Linked DNA regions of Homo sapiens: all the other regions are linked to region 2. The links come from fine-mapping of genetic effects on gene expression. A gene starts in region 2. Each other region holds a variant in brackets. All regions are shown on one strand. Distances are from middle to middle. Region 1 overlaps WDR35 (WD repeat domain 35). Region 2 holds the start of LINC00954 (long intergenic non-protein coding RNA 954). Region 3 holds the start of TTC32 (tetratricopeptide repeat domain 32). Region 4 has its middle 12 kb from the start of TTC32.

Region 1 (5,388 bases), 71 kb after region 2:
ATGTTGTGCCTTTACTTTCCTGGACTTTCAATTTATTTAGCAAAATAATGATTTAAATAACAATCATTTCTTTTCAGCAATTTCTTAGATGTGATCAGGTTTATTTCAAAACAAAACACAGTGTTAACACATGTGGTTTTATATGACTTTTCAGAGCCTAAGTCATATTAGAGATCTCCTGGGAGTATAAATAACATTAATGAAGATGAGATACAATCTTAACAGCTGAAATGAAGTTCAGACAGACTCTCCGCCTTGTGGTTCAGTGGCTAAGATTATCTGCTTTCATAGCAGCTGCCTGGGTTTGATTCCTGGCCAGGGAGACAGGCCTTACAGTTCTTTAATTCAAAAGAAGAAATATTTATGAAGTTCATACATTATTTTATATAAATCAAAAACGAAATATAAAGAACTAATCTCGATCCCTAACGACTTCTGATTTTTATTTTATGCCTCTTGACAACATAAAATTAAATAATGGCCTAAACAAACAAAGAAAGAAAGAACTGGAATAATGAGCTATGTCTTAAATATAAAAGATCCCAGTCTCTGTTGTTCTATCATTTTTTCCCATCAAATGAAAAAAAAACCTCCCAGAGTCAGCCATTATTAGATGTAAAAACAGAGAAGAAAACTGCCTCCAGACTATGAAACACAAATGAATGAGAGGCATGTAGAATATCTAGGTTGTAATCCAAACTTAAAATTAATTTCTAAAAGGAACCATATGATACACCTAACGTATTTATAGTTTCCATTTGTAAAAAATACAATGATGAACTGATAGAGTACTCAGGGATGCCTGCGCCTTCATAACTTACCTTCTGTCCATCTCGAGATACGTTCTTTCAGCCTCTTCAAACCTGCCGAAGTAGCCAACAACTTCAGCCTGTTTCATTGACTCACTCAGTAGTTTGCCCAAGCGCTTCACAAACTTAATGCCTTGGTAATCTTTGCAGCGCACAAATGCTTGCTCTGCAGTGTATAGATCCAGTTTCTGAAGAGCTGCTTCAGCCAGTAGGCGCCTTTATTTTAAAAGAAACAAAAACATAAGTGCATATTGCAAATTACTGACAAACTAGTCTTGAATCACAATTCAATTATCATTTATGTCTATTATTTCTAGAGAAACATGGTGGAAAGTAACATATGCAAACATTTTTCAAATAATTTTCTGCTTATTTTGAGGACTTCCAAATCTAAATGAATTTCTACATCTTAAAAAGAAGAGCAAGAATGGAAGTCTGCTCCCATCAGGAGGATAGTAGGGGAGCAGAGGGACAAAACTGAGACTTTAAAAACCTACACCTGACATCCTGGGAGAGTTTGCTTTTTTTAAATACCAAAGTCGGGGGTGTGGATTGTCCTCTATGAACTGAGATGCATCTTTAATTCCAACCTTCTCAATCAGTGCTCGGCTATCTCGCAGAGACCGAATCTCAAAGTTAATTAGGTAATCCTTGTTTGGATGTTCTGGATCCTAAAAGTAAAGATGAAAACAAAAAAATTCAAATATTTGCCGTTAGAGTATGTGTTTCTTTTTTATATTAAAAACCAGAACAAAACAAAACAAGAAAAAAAACGGCATCATATTGTGAGCAAAATAAGGAAGAGAAATCTTCACGTTTGGGTCTTTTGAGTTATCTGGAAAACACCAAAACCCACAAGTAAGTACCTCTGAGGCAATCAGGCGGCCTATGAGGAAAAGGGGACAGAGGAAAATGGCAGAAGGGGTCCCTCACAGTTATGCATCCCTGTTTCCCTCTGCTCAGATTGGTTTTTCACCTTAAATGAGATAACATGTCTCAAAGATTCAGCACAATGCCTAGCTGTACTATTTACGGTATTCAATATTCATCATCTCAGAACTGACCTAATGCTCTCCTGCTTCAGAATTTTGAACAGGTGTACCATCCTGACTGAATCACAGCACCCCTAACTCTTTTCTGGCAACTGAATTACTTATCCATCTCCTCAACTCCTCTACCTGAGGCCAAGAACTGTGTCTTATTGGCTGTTAATTAATAGTTGCTGAATTAATGAATAGATGAACTTTAGGTAAATCATTTTACCACTGAGAGCCTTCTTTATCTAAAAAACTTCACAAAATTCAATATAATCATCAATTACAGCAACAACACCACAGGCATTTTCACACATTCTAGAGCTTAAGGCAATCGGAAATTATGAGCCTTTCTTGAAAAACACTACTAACAATGAAATCCAGCCAACTAAAAGATTAATCAAAATTAAGAACTTACGTAAGGAGAAAATGTAGTAAAAAGCCTGGCTAATAGCTTTGAATTCATTTAACTATTAAGACTAAACAACTGGAAATTAGGATTACAAGACGAAATTTAAATGTTCTAAATCTTGACAATGTAAAAATAATATATCTACAAAAGGAGAAAAAGAAGAAAATGTAAGAATGTTATCTTTTAGAGTAGAAAGACAATACTATTAAAAATTAAAATATAATTTAAACTAATAACTACCTGGTTTTTCATAATTTTTCTTCTCAACCCAGGAAAATGGTATTCTTTGCAGTGGAAAAATATTATCTAAAAGTCTAGAATTCCTTTAAACTCACTTTCAGGTTATCTAATTAAATTAACACTAAAAAAGTAGATTGTACAATGATGTCATTTTTATAAAATTACTTCTGTTCATCTATCTAAATCTATCAAATCCATATTTCCATATATAACTTGCAGCTGTAAGGAATGATGTTCTGATGTTTAACGGTAGTGACTAAAATATCTGAGTTGTGGGATTTAGGGTTTTTTTTTAACTTGTTTCAGTACTTTTCTGTTTTGCTTGAATTCTATATAATTCTGCCATTTGTTTAAAAGCAGTAAAGTATTCATTTTTAAAAATCAATTTAACCAACACTTTCTGAAAACCAACTCTGTATCAGATCCTTGCTAAATGTTAGGGATTCAAGAAGCTCACTCTTTATCAAACCATTAAATATATAAAAGCAGACAAAATATTTCAGTCACCTTAGTTTGATTCTACCCACTTATGACTGTCTTTTTAAAGGGCCCTGGAAGAACCACATATTCAAAATAAAAAAAAAAGAAATAAATAAATAATGTCTTCTTTCCCTAAATCTCTTGGGAAAGAAGACAAGCAGAAAGACATCTTCTGGCTGGGCATGGTGGCTCACGCCTGTAATCCTAACATTTTGGGAGGGCAAAATGAGAGTTTCACTTGAGCCCAGGAGTTCAAGACCACCCTTGACCAACATGGCAAACCCCATCTCTA[CA/C]AAAAAAAAAAAAAAAAAACACAAAAAATTAGCCAAGCATGGCGGCCTGTGCCTGGGACCCCAGCTACTCAGGAGGCTGAGATGGGAGGATCACTTGAGCCTGGGGGGCAGAGGCTACAGTGAGCCATGATGGCACCACTGCACTCCAGCCTGGGCAACAGAGAGAAACCCTGCTGAAAAAAAAACAATAGATATCTTTCTTCACACGTGTGGAAAAGGAAAAAATATTATCTGGTGGTACTGTATTCAAGTTAAACGGGCAATGAAATAAGTTCATTAGTTTTACAAGTCATATACCTTAAACAAGGACAAGAAAAGTGCTATCCATATACAGAAGAGTCAGATAGTCAAATCTGGAGGTTACATAATCCTAGGTAATAACAGCCCAGACTCCATTTTTGATGGTTGGCTGCTGACAGCTTTTAAACCTCACCTCTCCCTCTTCCCCTCTGCCTCACATGGGGCAAGCTAATGAGAAAGCCCAGATGCTTCTTCCTTTGGGGCACCAGTGAGTTTCAAACCACATAAGCCCCTATCCATTAAAAGCCTCACCCCAGACCCACTCCCTAACTACTAAACAACAAAACAACAACAAAAACACCCTCAAGCCAGTCTCCTTTCCCTGTGCTGTCCAGCCATTTCTGACAGCTTGGGAAGCCTGCCCTTCTCTCCCCTAAAAGTTTCATTATGGAAGATACATTCCTGGTGTCCCTATGGTATCATCAATCTTTACATCCAAACCAAATTTTGGGTGGGGGCCCATCCCATTGCTGCATGGTGGTTATGATATAGAAAATGAAACTGGCTCACAATAAAATAGCCATAATTTACATATCAAACCCAAATATGATTTACATATCAAACCCAAACCTGTTCCAAATTGCCACTAACTTCTGGAAATTTTAAATCTACTATCTCAATTCAAAAACTATATATATATTACATAGAAAAAGTTAATGCTTTGGCTAAAATGAAGGTAAAACTTCTCTCAGTATATTCTTAGAGAAAAAAAATTCTCAAAGGATGGTCAATGTAGGCCAATGCAGGGGTTCAAAATCATGTCTTGAATTTAAAAAGAGAAAAAAGGATTATTTTACAAAACCTGGAAAAAATGGAAAGATAGATCTCTAAAAAAAAGTTACTCAAGTATCTTAGAACTAGAAAAAGGCTAAACTCTTAAATATTTCTTCAGTACCTCGTTATTACTACAAAAACAATGACAACAATTAGCACTCATTTTTTTTAGCTCTCACTTGGCCGTAGCATTGTGCTAATTGCTTTTCACACATTATCTTATATAATAACAATCCTATAAGTAGTATTATTATCTGTATTTTATAAAGGCAATAACTGAGACTTATACATTTTTATCATCATTTTACAGGAAAGTAAAGTGAAGCTCAAAAAGATGGTGGCACCCACCTAAAGGCTGAACAATAAGAGAGCAGGGCTGGGCCTGAGATATATCTGACTCCTGGGTCCACACTGCTAACCAGGATACTACACCGCCTGGTCCAGAAATAATCCCCTGTCAAGCTAGCAACAGAAATGTAACTTTTTAGGAATTACCTTTAATATCTCATCCAAAAGAACAGATTTAATTTCTAAATCCTCAAAATTACAAATATATCCAGAGGTCTGAATGGGTTCCTTTAAAGACAAAAAAAAAGTTATGTTTCATTATGCAAAATTTCCTCTCTTTTAACAAATCATGCTTTTAAATTTTATTATCAGAGTTTTCAGGTAAACAAAAGAGAGAATGTCATTAACACCCATATACCCATAACCTAAATAATTAGCATTATGGTAAATATGCTTCCTTTAACTTCTTGGCTGAAGTATTGTAAAGTAAATACAGTAAATTACGGACATCATGATATTTTATCCCTAAATACTGCAGTACATATCTTTAAAACATAAGAATTTTCTCTTACATGGCCACATTACTATGATCACACCTTACATAATTAATGTTAATTCCCTAATAGCATGTAATATTCAGTCCAATTTTCTCAATTAATAAAAAGTCATATAGCTTGAAAATTCTAATTCATGCAATTCAATATTAAAGTTAATTCTTCATAAAGCTGATAAACACTATATTTGTATGTAAGCCCATC
Region 2 (5,388 bases):
CTTCCTGAGTAGCTGGGACCACAGGCATGCACCACCATCCCCAGCTTTTTTTTTTTTTTTTTCTATTTTTTTGTAGACATGAGGTCTCACGATGTTGTCCAGGTTGGTCTTGAACTCCTGGGCTCAAGTGATCCTCCCACCTGGGCCTTCCAAAATGCTGAGATTGTAGGCGTGAGCCACTGTGCCCAGCCAGTATTTTTTATTTTAAATGAATTCAAATGAGAAATTCAGTTCCTCAGTAACACTGGTGACACTTCAAGTGTTCAGTAGTTGCATATGCTAGTGTCTATCAGTGGACAAGCTAGCACTAGATCTTTTTGCAGAATCCTTAAATGAGACCATACCCAGCTATACAGCACTTAGAAATCCATGTCTTGGCCGGGCACAGTGGCTCACACCTGTAATTCCAGCACTTTGAGAGGCAGAGGTGGGTGGATCACCTGAGATTAGGAGTTCAAGACCACCCTGGCCAACACAGTGAAACCCCGACTCTACTATAAATACAAAAATCAGCCGGGCATGGTGGTGCCCACCTGTAATCCCAGCTACTCAGGAGGCTGAGGCAGGAGAATCACTGGAACCTGGGAGGCTGAGGCTGCAGTGAGCCAAGATTGCGCCACTGCACTCCAGCCTTGGCAACAGAGTGAGACTGTGTCTCAAAAAAGAAAAGAAATCCCTGTCTTTTCTTGTCCTGTCCAAGTACTCAGTTTCTACAGGCTTCATGTTATAGGGCGGTGTGTCCCAAATCCCTCTAGCTGATTTAGGGGTATGAGTAACAGTTAAAGCATCAAGAGAAGTAGCCACCAAATAGAAATGAAAGTATGGTGCCATTTCTGCTCATGTAGCCACTACCCCTAAAGAGGCAACACTTGTAAAGCATCCATGGAGTAAAACAAGTCTGCACATCTCAACAACTCAAGGGCACTAAGCAAAGACCATGGAGCTGCAGCAACAGGATGCTATTCAGACTGTTAGGAGGCCCACACATAACTCATTTGAGAGCACAAGGTTAATAAGTGGCAGAGCCAGAACTAGAGCCTAGGTCCTTGCACTCACGGTCTGAGCTCATCAGTGTGTGAGCTCACTTCACCCACTCCATTCCTACAGCTACAGAGTTCCCCGTGGAAGTCTCAGTTGCACACCAGAGAGGCATCTGGGGGAAAATGTTCCACCTGGTCTCATGGCCTAGGAGACAAAGAACCCTGGGTTAGGATCTCAACTCTGGACTTAGTAATGACCCTGAATAAGCCTGGGCCCTCATGTCCTTCCCACCTGCAAAATGGAGGCTGTATCCCTGTTCTAGGCCCTCTGCAACAAAGCATCACAAACTTGGTGACTTCAAACGACAGAAATTTATTCTCTCCCAGTTCCGGAGGCCAGAAATCTGACACCAACTTGTGGAAAGGGCCTCCAAAGCCTCGAGGAATCTTTCCTGGCCTCTTCCAGCTTCTGGTGAATGCAGGTGTTCCTTGGCTTGCGGCAGCAGAACTCCAGTCTCTGCTTCTGTCTTCACATCACTGCTGTCCACTCTTCTATCCCAAGTCTCCTTCTGCCTTTCTCTTAAAAGAACACTTACATTGGATTTAGGATCCACCCAGATGATCCAGGATGAACTCTTCTTCTCAGACTCCCAATTACTTCTGCAAAGGCTATGTTTCCAAATAAGGTCACATTCACAGGTTCTAAAGGTTAGGTAATGAACATATCTTTGTGGCAGAATTGGGGTGGAGGGGAGCGGAGGGAGGCTCACGGTTCAACCCATGGTAAGGAGTTTGGACCACGTGAATTCCAGGTCTCACTCAGCTCTGAAAACATACAAAAATGGCAAAGGGCAACTATCTCTACCACATAAAGAATACATCCAAGTGCCTCAGGTCAACATCAACATCCCAAGAAGTAAATGGACAGTTCACACATACAATTAGAAGATGCTCTAATTAGCAAGCAGACACACGTGGGAGTTTTGCCTTTCTAACGTCAGAGAGATGCAAACTAAAAAATTTGTTTAATCTCAGAAAACTAAAACCAAATGCTGGCAAGGATGTGATGGAACTGAGACTTAAACATGGATCTGCCATTTATTCCCTGGGACTGGCTCAGGGTAGGCACTTATTGATTTGACTTGCCGATGGATGGTTAATTGGCAAAACTCTTTGGGGGGAAACTGTGGCAACATATTCCAAGAACCTTGAAAATAAAGATGGCTATTGGCTGAAAATTCCTCATCTGTACTGAGAATTTATCCTAAGGAAATCATCCTTGTGAACAAATATTTGTCTCAGCATTATTTATAACATCTAAATAGTGCAAACAACCTAAGCCTTCAAGAGAATGGGAACAATTCTGCACAGAAGTTCCGCAGCCGTGAAAGTGATGTTAAAACCGGGAGAACAGATAAGGCTAGTTGAATAAATCGGGACCACTGAGGAGGAGGCAGGGGAGGTTTAGGGGTGCCAGCAATACTTCGCTGTGGGTGATCAAGAACATGATGTGATTGCTGTAGAATCACTTCCTTAAACTGTGCATTTGTATTATGTATTTTTTATGCTTAAAACACATTTTAAGAAAAACCGAAGATTTTATTTTTTCTTTTTAACAGCTGAATCCAAGAATCCTAGGACACTCTTAATTTGTCCCAGAAGTGTGAAGTCCACCTAGGGCATAGCCGTGAAGGGCTCCCAGAACTGTACGGGGAATTTTGAGGCTGGGGTACCGCAGTGAAGTGCAGCTCACCCGGGCGGAGCGCACCTGACCTGGCTTCCACACCTGGTGGAGCGCCTGGGAGGCCTCGCGGATAAAGCCCCGGGCAGCGCGTGACCCGCCCCAGCCCAGTAGTGGAGTCCCCGCCGCGGGCCCCTTGCTTGCAGGGTAGGTGTGGCCCGGTCGTCCCACTCTCCGCCCCCTCCTGCTCCTCCTCGCCGTGCCCAACCCGCCCGCTTCTCCTGCCTAGGCTCTTCTTTCTGCTCCTGTCGCCATGGCCCCGGCCTCGGCGCTCAAGCGACCCTCTCGCTCCGCCCAGGTCAGTGAAGGATGGGATGCAAGTGCCCGCCAAGCCCCCCGTTTCCCACGTGGAGTTCCCACAGGGCAGCAGGGAGGGGCCGCGCCTTCTCTAACTGACCCGAACCGACCCGGGCTTCACAGGCTTCGTGGAGAGCAGCTGCCCCGCCGGCATCTTCCGGATGAGGCTCTCTAGACAACAAAGCCTTCTACGCGGAAGTTACTGGTGACAGGGGAAGGACTCATGGGTTTTTGCAGCCCGGTGTCCCCAAAACAACCTCCTGACCCCCAGCCCACCCAGGTTCCCTGCTAGCCCGCCCAACCCAGAAAGACTGGCCTGCCTGGGGTCCAGCAAGGATACAGAATCGCGCAGCTGCCCCCCACAGCCTGCCGCCCAGCATCGGTTCTCCCACCCATCTGCCTGTCCCCACCCGCTATGAGACGCCCTGGGTCTGCTTCCCTGGGACCAGCCCTCAGCGTTGCCTTAAGTGATTCTGGTGCCAGGGACTCTGAGGACCCCCAGGCTCCTCCAGGCTGGCAGGTGACCATACTCCTTCCACTGCAGACCCCTGGATGCCCAGCTGCCGCACCTCCCGTGGCCCCACGCTGTGGCTACGTGTTGTCTGAAGACGCCTGGGGAAACCTTCAGGGCCTCTGTACTGGCCTGTCATGTGGTCAACCAGGTGAGCAAGCTTCTGAGATGCCCTTGTTCAATTGCCCAGGAAACAGGTGTCCAAGATTCATATGGAAGAAATCTGGCCCTGCCCTCAGCACTGAGGACATTTGGGGAATCCAGCATCCCCTCCTGGATGCAGATCGCTTCCGCCTGGCACAGGCTGTCTTCACAGCTGCAGAGTCCTCTTGTGTCTAAGAACAGAGACCACAGTTCCATCTTTGCCTTGCCAGGATTGACCTCTAATGAATAGATCACCTTTGTAAGGTGGACCAAAAAAAAAAAAAAAAAGAGCATTTCCAGGTGGCTGTAACTGACAGCTGGGAACTGCCAGAGTGTGGCAGGAGGCCCAAAGCTGTAGGAGTTTAGAGGAAGCCGCATGCAGGCACCTTGCGCTCAGATGAGGCATGGGGTAGAACTGCAGATGAGAGCAATCAGAAGGAGACTCGTGGGATAGCAGGGTTTAACCTGGCTACGATGTCAGCAAGGTGGACGGGGAGACTGGGGCCCCAGCTATGCCTGGATTTAGGGGTTCAAAGGTATAGGGAGCTAGCAGGAGCACTTCAACAGAACAGAGGTGAGATTAGTGTCAGATCACTAAATCCTAAGTCTCTTCTGTGCATCTCTACCTGCTCTATTTCATCATGCTCCCTTCCCTGCACACCTCCAGCCGTCTGTCTACTAACAAGAGACCCGTACCTCAGTCCCACTGAGCCAGGTGGGACTGGGCCAAACCTCCCTATTTGATTCTTGCCTCATCTTCCCTGGGACTTCGGTGCTTTCTTGCCCTTCTTCCAGGATAATAGATGGTTTTCCCTCAGTGTGAACATCGAGGTGTCTGGGTTCATGGAAGCTGGTGAAGAAACCACCTACAACTATACCATGTCCTGTCCCTATTTCACATGGGCCTCGAGGAAGATTCTCTGAAGGGAACTACATGGAGGTGAGCACAGGTAACCCCAGCCAGAATGCTGGGTCTCCTGGGGCCGAAACTACCTCCTTCGTTCTATGAAGTGAGGCCACACTTGATATTTTCATGGAACCAAGTCCCTTAGTACTTAAGCCTTATCAGCCATGAAATAGACCCTTTTCGGGAAACAAGATTTGATTAAGTTGAAAGGAAATCAGAATGTCAGCGATCTCTGCACTCCTATGGTCATTGCAGCACTATTCACAATGATATAGAATCCACCTAAGTCCCTCTCAGTCCCTCAGTTGGATGAATGGATAAAATGTGAAATAGATTAGATACACACACACACACACACACACACACACAGGAATACCATTCAGCCACTTTTAAAAAATGAAATCCTGTCCCTTGCAGCAACGTGGATGAACCTGGAGGTCATTATGTTAAGTGAAACAAGCCGGGCACGGAAAGACAAATACCACGTGACCCCACTCATTTGTGGAATCTGAAAAAGCTGATCTCAGAAGTAGAGACTATAGAATAGTGGTTCCAGGTAGCTGGGAAGTGTAGGAGAGATAGGTTAAAAGGTACAAAATTCCAGTTAGGAGGAATAAGTTTTAATGTTCTATTGTACAGTAGGGTGACTATGGTTAACAATAGTATATTGTATATTTATCATATTTATAATTTATATTGTATATTTATAAGAGGATTTTGAATGCTCTTACCACAAAGAAATGATAAAGGTTTGAGGTGATGGATACGCATTACCCCGATTGGATCATTACACATTGTAAACATCACA
Region 3 (5,388 bases), 34 kb after region 2:
ACTTCTATTATTATTCTTGTGTGTTATTGAAATGAGAAGGCAATTTTCTTTCTGGTTTAATTCCATGTAGCGTAACAAACAGGGTAAGAATCAAGTCCTTAGTGTTTAGTTAAGCCTCATACAAAAGACAAGCTGGCATCCTGTCCAGAAAACTCAAATCCACAACAGACAACTCACAACTATTCAAAAAGCTGTTCAACCAACCCCTCTGTTCTTTTCTCATCCTGATCCACTCCATACCATCAACAAGCCCAGTCGAGGCAAGACTTGGAGTAAAAACAAATGCTACACATCCAGGCACAAGCCGAAAAGATGCTTTGGGCAAGCAGACAGTAACAGGTGAAGCCGCTCACATCACAAAGAGAAAGTCAGCGAATCGTTATGTGCTTCCTGGTGAAAGTACACACACCCACCTAAAAAGTATTCTTGCCATGATATTGAATCTGAATTCAATTGGATCAAACCTCAAGGTTTAACCACCAATTCACAGCAATATGAGACAGATGACCACATTAAACGACAGAAGAGATTCAGTCAGCAAGTCCAAAACACGGAAATTCAAAGGACACAAGAATCGGTTTCCTCAACAAATAAAGAGGGGAAGGTGGAGAAGAGACTTAAAAAGACTTGATGTGTATCCTGACTTGAACTAACTGCGAAAAGGGAACCAAAGAACAAAACACCTTATTAGTCGATCAGAATGGTTCCAACACTGACGACTTGATATTAAGTAACTATGTGATGATGACATGGTGGTTCCTTCTGAAACATCCATGGATGAATACAATAGGTAAACTGATAATGCTTAAGCCAAGTGATAAACACCTAGACGTTCGTTATGCTCTCTTCCACATATTTAAACGTTTTTCACAAGTGAAAAACACCACCAAGAGCCTGCGCCGTGACACTGAGATGGGAGTCGCGGTACTGTGGCCCTACGCAGCCGTGACCCCTTCCCTTCCCAGGTCGCGGATTTCCCGCCAGCTAAAATCACGAGTGGAAAATTCCTATCTGTCCTAAGTCTCTGGGTGCGAATGAGGAACGTGGAAGGAGAGACGGCGGGGTGAGAGGCGGCGGCCCGCGCCCGAGGATCGCGCAGAGGGCTTGGTTCCCGGAAATCTCTCCGCACCGTCGCGGCAGCTGGCTCCTCACGGGTGGGCTTCTCCCCGCGTTCTCCGCCGCCCTCGTCCTAGGCCTCGCCTAGGCCTTTCTAGAAAGACGAACGTCCGCCCGCTCAGTCCTAGTGCTGGGTTATGACAAGCGCCGACCGTGAGCTCCAGAGGCAAAGATAGGAGCCCAAACAACCCCAACGTCGCCTCCACCCGGGGTCGCCGCGGCCCCAGGTCTCGCGATAGTTACCTCCCGGGACTCTCGTCGCTGGAGGCCGCGCAAGCGCACCGGCGAATGTAAGCGGAGTACAGTGCCTCGGCCTCCGCGTACTCTCCATTGTTGAAATGAGCCTGGGCGAGTGTTAGGGTTGCGTGGCTTTCTTGCCGCTGTCCTTCCATAGCAGCCAAGGCCTAGTTTTCGGTGTAGAATGGGGGTTGACCTCCGAGCGGTTAGAGGTGGCACCACAAAGCCACTTCCACACCCTGGAATCTACCTTGACAGCCAACCTTGGCGCTAGGTTTGTGCCTTATGGGGATCCGTCGTCTCGCGAGATAACGGTTCCGCTGCTGGCGGGGCGTTTGCAGTGGCCCTTGTGAACTATGTTTCTGCCGTTACCAGTGTTGGACCCGCCTTCCTCTTTTCCTAGAAAAGGCGCAGATGCGTGGTCGCAAACTGATTTCCAAGTCCGTTGTCTGATGCTGCGAGACACTATCCGTTTGTTACAGCGAATTGGGGGCCGATGACGCTGGAGGTGGAAGAAGCCGCGGTTCTGTTTCTTAATGGCGAATTAGCCTGCGGACGTCCTGTCATTCCCTTGCCTTTTAGCGTCCCAACTTAGCAAAACTCCGCGTTTAGGGTGTTCTGAGTAGGCTTTGTCTACCCTGAAACGCTTTGTGTCGACATTCCACCAGGTCTGTTCCACGGTCCAAACTTCTCTACCTTTTTTGACCCTCTAGAATTGTGTTACGATTAGTAGTATATTGTGTCGAGAGTCTGGGATCTTTGATGTTAGTTATATTCCCTGGCTGTTTATGCCAAAGGGAAATCCAAATAGTAATTTATTACGTACATTACGTATAATTCAAATTAAAATTTTGTAAGAACAGTTGCCAACCACGCTACCCTACATGCCTGCTGTGTATCTTCTCGGCGTCCCTCGATTCTGTTTTGCTTCCCAAAGTACTTGAGCCCTTTCCGTCATAAAAAGTAAAGATGAAAAATATATTTGGAGCATGATACTTACATGCGGAAGTCTTAACAGGACATAAATTGTGTGCTTTTGGCTGCTTTCATTAGATTTTTAATTTTTTCCTTTTACCACCACTGAAAAAAATACAAATACAGTGGATTAAGGTTAAATTAAAAAGCACTAGTAGAAATTAAAAGATTGCAAGACTACAAAAAAATAAACTGGCATTTCTGGTGTAAGCAAATGGACAGCTCAATAGAACAAAAGCCCAGAAACATACCTCAAATAGGCTGTATTTTGTAAAAGACATGTAACATATATGGGGAAAGGACAGATTATTCAAATGAGTGCTATTGGGAGGATTAGTTAACCATTTGGGGAAAAATACATTTAAGCATTTAAGCTCCCAATTGACATAATATTCATTCCAGGTGAATTAAAAGATTAAATAAATAAGATAAAAAGCTTTTTTTTTTCAGTTCCCATTTATTTTTGCCTCTTGGAGCAATGTCATCTTTTCAATATGAAAAAAACAAAACAAAAAACAAATCTGAAGTACAGGATAGAACAAAACCAAGTGTGTTGGGGGAAGCAACAGCAAAGGGAAGACAAGATGTTG[C/CA]AAAAAAAAAAATGGAGGGGGGATTCCCCTCTCCTCTGGGGAATGACTCAAACACTGATGTGGCAGCGTACACTATTCTACATAAAGCCAGGGATGTTAATCCTTTTGGGGGATAAGAAAAAGTGGAGATGGCCAGGCTCTGTGGCTCATGCCTGTAATCCCAGCACTTTGGGAGGCCTAGGCGGGCAGATCACCTGAGGACAGGAGTTTGATAACAGCCTGGCCAACATGGCAAAACCCCGTCTCTACTAAAAATGCAAAAAATTAGCTGGGCGTGGTGGCGGGTGCCTGTAATCCCAGCTACTCATGAGGCTGAGGCACAAGAATCCCTTCTGGGTGGAAGTGGTTGGCAGTGAGCTAATTTTTGTATTTTTTGTGGTGATGGGTTTCCCCATGTTGTCCAGGCTGATCTCCAACTCCTGGGTTCAAGACATCTGCCCACCTCAGCCTCCCAAAGTGCTAGGACTACAGGCATGAGCCACCGCACCTGACTAGAAGTTTTGCTTTGTTCTGTTCAAGGAATAACAGGAATATTTATGTGTCTAAAAACCAGTGATCTAAGAGGAAAATAGCAGGATATGTAATGGAAATTGGGGATTTGGGAAGGGGGTTTCTAAATAGGAGTAAGATTCTTAACCTTTTTTGTGCTATGGCACCTTTACAAGTGTGGTGAAGCCTATGTCGTTTCAATGTTTTCAAGTGTTTTTAAAACATAGGATTACAAAGGAAAGGAATTATATTAAAAAACAGTTGGAATATTAACAGATTTATTAAAAAGTAAAACATTTATTAACATTAAATATCAAGAACAAATGGCAAACACAAAACTAGCAGAGGAAGAAAATAATAAAAGATCAAAACACAGATAAAACAAAAATGGAATCAACAAAACCAAAAGTTGGTTCTTAAAAAGATTAAAAAAGTTAATAAAACTTGAGCTAAATTGACTACGAAAAAGGAAAAGACTCAGATTACTAAAATCAGAAATGAAAATGGGAACATTACCATCAATTCTACAGAAATAAAGAGGATTATAAGAGAGTACTATGAACAATTGTATGCTGAAAAATGGGAGTAACTACATGAAATGAGCAAATGCCTAGAAACAAAAAACCTACGAAGATTGTATCATGAAGAAATAGAAAATATGAATAGACGTGTGTATTAGTCTGTTCTCACACTGCTAATAAAGACGTACCCAAGACTGGGTAATTTTTTTGTTTTTAAGAAAAAAGAGGTTTAATGGACTCACAGTTCCACGTGGATGGGGAGGCCTTATAATCATGGCAGAAGGCAAACAGCACGTCTTACATGGCAGCAGGCAAGAGAGAATGAGAGAACAGTGAAGGGGGAAATCCCTTATAAAACCATAAGATTTTGTGAGACTTAGTCACTACCATGAGAACAGTATGGGGGAAACTGCCCCCATGATTCAGTTTTTTCTCCCACCGGCTCCCTCCCACAACATGTGGGAATTATGGGAGCTACAATTCAAGATGAGATTTGGGTGAGGACACACACAAACCATATCAACCTGTAACTTGTAAGGAGATTCAATCAGTAATCTAAAAATAACCTCTTGACAAAGAAAAGCCCTGGACCTGATGGCTTCACTGATGAATTCTACTAAATGTTTAAGGAAGAACCAACACCAGTCCTTCTTAAGATTCCATTTAAAAAATGGTTATAACTAATGAATTCAGCAAGGTAGGAGGATATGAAATCAACATGCAAAAATCAGTTGCATTTTTATTCACTAACAATGAAGCTATCCAAAAATGAAATTAAGAAAACAATTCCAGCCAGGCACAGTGGCTCACACCTGTAATCCCAACATTTTTGGAGGCCAAGGTGGATGGATCACTTGAGGTCAGGAGTTCGAGACCAGCCTGGCCAACATGGCAAAACCCTGTATCTACGAAAAATACAAAATTTAGCCAGGTGTGGTGGCAGGCACCTGTAATCCCAGTTACTCAGGGGGTGAGGCAGGAGACTCACTTGAACCTGGGAAGTGGAGGTTGCAGGGAGCCAAGATTGTGCCTTGCACCACTGCACTCCAGCCTGGGCAACAGAGCAAGACTCTGTCTCAAAAAAAAAAAAAAGAAAGAAAAGAAAACAATTCCATCTACAGTAACATCAAAAAGAAAAAAATATTTAGGAATTAATCAAGAAAGTAAAAGATGTGTACAATTAAAACTATAAAACATTGCTAAAAGAAATTGAAGAAGACATAAATGGAAAGACATCTCATGTACATGGATTAGAAGACTTAATATTGTTTAGATGTTAATATTATATAAATCAATCTTCAGATTCTATGGAATCCTTATCAAAATCCCAATGATGTTTCTGCAGAAATAGAAAACTCCATCCTCAAATTCATATGGAATTACAAGGACTCCCAAATAGCCAAAACAATTTTGGAAAAAGAACAAAGTTTAAGGACTCACTTCCTGATTTCAAAACTTAC
Region 4 (5,388 bases), 21 kb after region 2:
ATTCCCACAGCTCCAGCTGGAGACATGCACCCACAACTTAGCAGTGCCTTGGGGTGTCCTGTCTACTGCAGGACGTCTTCAGTGCCCATAACGTTCTTCTCCAAATTAGGTTTCTGAGCCTTTGCATATTACATCACAGGGCTGGGCCCATGGGACTGCAATCCGGGAGGATGGTCCTAGGCACAAAATTGAATCTTGAGATAGGTCTAAGGTTTGCCATCAGGATTAATGAAAATAAGTGTACACCGGGGCATGCTTCACTAACTGGAAGTCACTATTATTAAACTGAGAACCGGAAGGGCTAGATCTGGTCATAATTCTGTTAACCAACTGCATAACCTTTAAGCCGGAACCTTTACCTGTAAAATAAAGGAGTAGATGATTTCTCCAGTTCCTTCCCGCTCAAGTGTCCTATGACTGATTAAAATTATGTGTCCATTAAGCAGCTCAAAAGGAATTATGTCTGGCTATCTGAAAGCTCACAGCCAGCCAAGGAGGAAGTGCACTAAAGGCGAGGCCCGGCTGCTCCCCAGCCCAGCACTGCTCGCTGCTGTGTTAATTGACAATGATGGAACAAAGCACATTTTATGAGAGTTCATGAGTAGGAAGTCCAAGGAGCCTATACATTAGTCACGTCTGAAAATCTTCCTTGCTGGTCCTGCAAGCCAGAGGAGCTGGCCACTGCCACTTACCCAGATGAAGGACATGTCGATCCAGAAAAGGGAACAGTTAGCCAACATTGCTTTATTTGCTCAATCGTAATAACTTTTTCCAGGGAGAAAACCCACGTAAAACTATTGGAGACAGAATTCTGGATCAAGTCAGGCCACAACATAAAATTACATGGTAACAATGGTCTCCAATTTGAGAGAAGCAGCATAATGCACCCCAACCTCCCACAAAAACCTCAAACCCTTGACTCGGGAAAACAAGAAGGTCATCTTCCATCGGCCCTTTCCTCCACTGTCCTTCTCCCCAGACTCCCTTGTGCTTGTATAGGGCAGGGAGGGGTAAGGAAAACAGATCAGTTGCCCTGGGACGTCAATCACCCTGTTGAAACTGGTCTGAGTGCCAGACAGACAACCAACATGGCTCCTGCCTTCAGGGTCCACATCTTGAAGAGGGAGAGGAACACAGGAAATGGAAAAGCACCCTGGAATTAGATGCTGGGCCAGATGAACTGGAAGTAGTTCTTAAACTTGAGTGTGCCTCAGACTCCCCAGGGGCCTTGTTAAAACACAGATGGCTAGACCCTACCCCCAGGGAGCTAGATTCACTTGGCTTGGGGTAGGGCTGATATTTTGCATTTCTAACATGGTCCTAGGTGCTGCTGGTCCATAGACCATGTGCTGAGAACCAGTACTACAGACAGTGCTCCCCATACTTTAGTGTGCGTATGAACCGCCTGGGGGCCTGGGTAAAGTGTGAGCTCTGATTCAGCAGGTCTGGTACAGGGCTAGGGATCTGCATTTCTAACAAGCTCCCAGGTGATGCCAATGCTGCCGGTCTGTGGTCCCCATTCAGTAGCAAGGGTGCTCCATCTAGACCAGAGTGTGATGGAAGTTAGAGAATGAGATGAGTTTGGGTTGATATTGGCAGGGAAGGTTTAATGGTAGTTACTGGGACTTGGGCTGGTCCCAGAAGAATGAGCAGGATTTAAATAAATGAAAAGGCTGTATTCTGGGAGAGAAATTTGAACACAGACAGGGCGGTGGGATTGAGAATAGCAAGGGTAGAGGAGTGGGCACTGGCCATTGTCACAGATGAGTGACACACCGAGGCTTGGGGCCCTGCATGCAGGCGCCTTGCTCCATCTGCCTCCACACCACCCTCCCCAAGCAAGAAGCTGGTGCAGTTCCAGTAAGTCTACTGGCAGCCAGTCTTCATAATGGAAATAATTATTGTTCTGTGAGTCCCAGACTGACAGCTCCCAATCCTGCCTGCTCAGCCAACTGGGTTATTTTTTCACCTGGCTTGTTAGCAATGGTTTGTTGTTTGGCAGCATGAAGTGACTCCCACTTTTCCTTTCCAATCTCAAGTCAGAGAAACCTCAGTTCTCCGAGAGTTGAATGTCTCGAAGCCACACGGGGGTGGTTATGGATTTCTCAGCAGGCAGCCAGGGCAACCAGCATGTTCTATATGGTGCTCAGTCATGGGTTCCTCTCCTGATCCAGTGAGGGTCATGATCAGATAAAGGAGTAATAGCCCCTTCTTTCCCACACCCACCCCCCAACCTTGGAAGTCTTCCGTTTTCAGGTTTGTTCTAACAAAAGGCTCACCTTTTCTTCAATAGAGCTGCATGTGTAGGTGCAGAAACATGCGAGCTCATGTGCAAAAGGCCTGTCATTTGAAAATGAAACTACTATTTATTGGGTTTCCCAGCAGTGCTGTAACGAGGCACTACAAACTGAGTGGCTTATAACAACAGAAATTTATTTTCTCACAGTCCTGGAGACTGGGGAGTCCAAAATCAAGGTGTTGGCAAGGGCATGCTCCCTCTGAAGCCTCTAGGGCATGGACCTCACCCCTGGGGAGCTGGAAACCCTTCCTTGCTTTTTCCAGTTTCGGGTATCCCTGGGTGTTCCTTGGCTTGTGGCAGAACCACTCCAGTCTCCACCTCTGTCTTCACAAGCCGTTCTCCCCAGTGTCTGTGTCCAAATTTCCTTTTCCTTGTAAGGACATCAGTCACACAAGGTATCTGTAAGGACCCACCCTACTCCACCTGCATCTTCTTAACTAATTAGATCTGTCATAACTTTATTCCCAAATAAGGTCACATTCTGAGGTACTGGTAGTTAAAACTCCAACATATCTTTTTGGGGGGCCCAATTCAACTCCTAACAGGTA[A/C]CTTTATAGTTTATAACATTATATTACCTGCTGAATTTGACCTTGTCTTTTAGAGGGGCTTTTTCCTCTAAACTAGAATAGTGACCTGTTTTAAATAAAATCGATGCTGAACTATAAATCAGGCCCTATTCTCAAGGTCAGCTGAGAAGGGCTCAAACACTTATCCACCCCATACCTATTAGCCAGTGATGAATCTGTAAGCTCTAAATAGCAAGTTACTGAGCAGATTATGATAATGAATTCACTTATCCATTCAACACATGTAAGGCCCTTCTGCATGCCAGGCCGTGGTGCTGAGGACACAACAGTAAACAAAAGAGACAAAAGTCCCTGCCCTCTCAGAGCTTGCCTTCCAGTGTGGGAAAGACAAAATAAATAAGAACATGGTTTGGGTAAACAGAAAAAAGATGAGTATGATGAGGATTTGCTATTTTAAAGAGAGCGGTCAGAGAAGGGCCAGGATAAGGCCATGGGGTAAGGCAGGGAGAAAACAGCACATGTAAGTTCCTCAACGTGAGTCTTTGTGAAGACTCTGCTTCTCACTGAGAGAAGCCATGGCACACTCCCAAACCTTCACTCTGGTGGCTGTGTTGAAACTGACTTTGGAGGTAAAACTGACAAAGCAGGATACTTGCAATACAGAGGGGCTGATGTCTTGGCTTTGGGTGGTAGCGGATGAGATGAAAATTGCTGGAATCGGGATCTGTTTCAAGGTAGGAACCCACAGTGTTTGCCGCTGGGGAGCACTGGGACCAAGTCTGGCATGAGAGGCGGGACAGTACAGCTGCCATTAGCTGTGCTGGGGGAGGACCAGGAACTCCGTTTGGGATGCTTTAAGTTTGCACAACATCAACTCTGTGATCTTAAAAAGAGCTTTCCAATAAAGTGGAAATAGGTTCAAATAACGTGGTGCCAAAAGAATACATTCAAAGGTATTCTTGGTACACAGGAGTCAAAATTGCCTAGAGGGAAAAGAGGCACTCAGGTGGTGAACACAACTAATAGTAATTTTTTCAAGAGGTGACTAGCAGCCATAGGAAAGGGAGCCTTTTAACCCTTTGTTTCTAGTTATTCTGGCTAAAAATGGTTAGCTGTAGAGAAAAATATGAAAGGCGGGGGGTCTTTTTATTTATACCTCCTGTACTGTTTTAATTTTTATTACCATAGCCATGTATTAATTGTATATCAAGAAATTGGCAAGCACTTTTCATGCGGCTTTAAAAATTATGTGTCAAAGCAGAATAAGGTAGACTTCTAAGTTCTTACACAAAAGAATGTTCAAAATAATAAGTGATTTAAGTTACCAAATAATATGTATACCATAATTCTGCGCATGTATCTGCATACCTGTGCCCATGTATTTGTACAAAGAAAAAGGCCTAGAAGGATAGACAGGAACTGCTTTTTACCTTATATTCTGCAGGTTTGCCACTTTTAAAAGGAGTACTTTTTGCATGTGTTTAAATTGAATGTGATGGCCTTCCCTCTACTTCGCTTCAGCCAGAGCTCAAGCCTCCACACACTCCAAACAAGAATTGTTGAATAGTTTAAAGAAATAGGCGGGCTGGGCACGGTAGCTCACGCCTGTAATCCCAGCACTTTGGAAGGACGAGGCAGGCAGATCATGAGGTCAGGAGTTTGAGACCAGCCTGACCAACGTGGTGAAACCCGGTATCTACTAAAAATACAAAAATGAGTTGGGCTTGGTGGCACATGCCTGTAATCCCAGCTACTCAGGAGGCTGAGGCAGGAGAATCCCTTGAAACCCAGGAGGTGGAGGTTGCAGTGAGCTGAGATCACGCCACTGCACTCTAGCCTGGGCAACAGAGCGAGACTCTGTCTCAAAAAAAAAAAATAAATAAGCAACAGAAAAAAAAACTGAAGCTTTTCAGTCCCCCTTGGCTCTTATTCCTGCTAGAAATAATGTGACTATGTAATAATAAATTCTACTTAAGGGTTGTATCAGTCTGTTTTCACACTGCTATAAGGAACTGCCCCAGTCTGGGTAATTTATAAAGGAAACAGGTTTAATTGACTCACAGTTCAGCATGGGTGGGAAGGCCACAGGAAACTTGCAATCACGGCAAAAGGGGAAGCAAGGCACCTTCCTCACAAGGCAGTAGGAAGAATGACAGAAGGAGGAACTTGCCAAACCCTTAAAAACCATCAGATCTCGTGAGAATTCACTCACTATCACGAGAACAGCATCGGGGAAACAGCTCCATGATTCAATTACCTCCACCTGGTCTCTCCCTTGACATGTGGGGATTATGGGGATTACAATTCAAGATGAGATTTTGGGTGGGGACACAGCCAAACCATACCAAGGGTTTTTTGTTGTTTCTTCAGTAGTAGGGCCAAAATGTTTTTTGAAGTTAAGCACGATTCTTATAAGAATATAGAATGAAAATGTGAAAAATGTTTAACTCATTAATAGAGAACCGCCAGAGTGGTAAAAGAGCATTAGAATAACTGAGTACTTATGGTCCATGAAGAAAGAATTTGGGAATAAAGTTGCTAGGTTAAATACAAAACTGGTTA

The links.
Region 1: its variant is fine-mapped to the expression of LINC00954 in monocytes (Schmiedel 2018, PIP 0.95).
Region 3: its variant is fine-mapped to the expression of LINC00954 in activated naive CD4 T cells (Schmiedel 2018, PIP 0.95).
Region 4: its variant is fine-mapped to the expression of LINC00954 in whole blood (TOPMed, PIP above 0.99).

Annotation. Positions count from the first base shown.
Region 1 is chr2:19,936,922-19,942,309 of GRCh38, forward strand. WDR35 (WD repeat domain 35) reads right to left here. Exons shown (of 27, transcript NM_020779.4): 17 at 4,838-4,918; 18 at 1,344-1,480; 19 at 822-1,025. Among named protein-coding and RNA genes, the nearest start is that of TTC32, 38 kb to the left of the region's middle. The variant CA/C (reference allele first, on the strand shown) is at 3,268.
Region 2 is chr2:19,865,934-19,871,321 of GRCh38, forward strand. LINC00954 (long intergenic non-protein coding RNA 954) reads left to right here and starts at 2,921. Exons shown (of 10, transcript NR_033875.1): 1 at 2,921-3,019; 2 at 3,563-3,680; 3 at 4,469-4,613. RefSeq lists an enhancer at 2,633-2,682.
Region 3 is chr2:19,900,347-19,905,734 of GRCh38, forward strand. It overlaps TTC32 (tetratricopeptide repeat domain 32), which reads right to left and starts at 1,637. Exons shown (of 3, transcript NM_001008237.3): 1 at 1,360-1,637. The coding sequence starts at 1,508. RefSeq lists enhancers at 598-1,479, 730-919, 1,060-1,119, 1,200-1,299, 1,480-2,360 and 1 more. The variant C/CA (reference allele first, on the strand shown) is at 2,919.
Region 4 is chr2:19,887,163-19,892,550 of GRCh38, forward strand. No RefSeq gene overlaps it. Among named protein-coding and RNA genes, the nearest start is that of TTC32, 12 kb to the right of the region's middle. The variant A/C (reference allele first, on the strand shown) is at 2,848.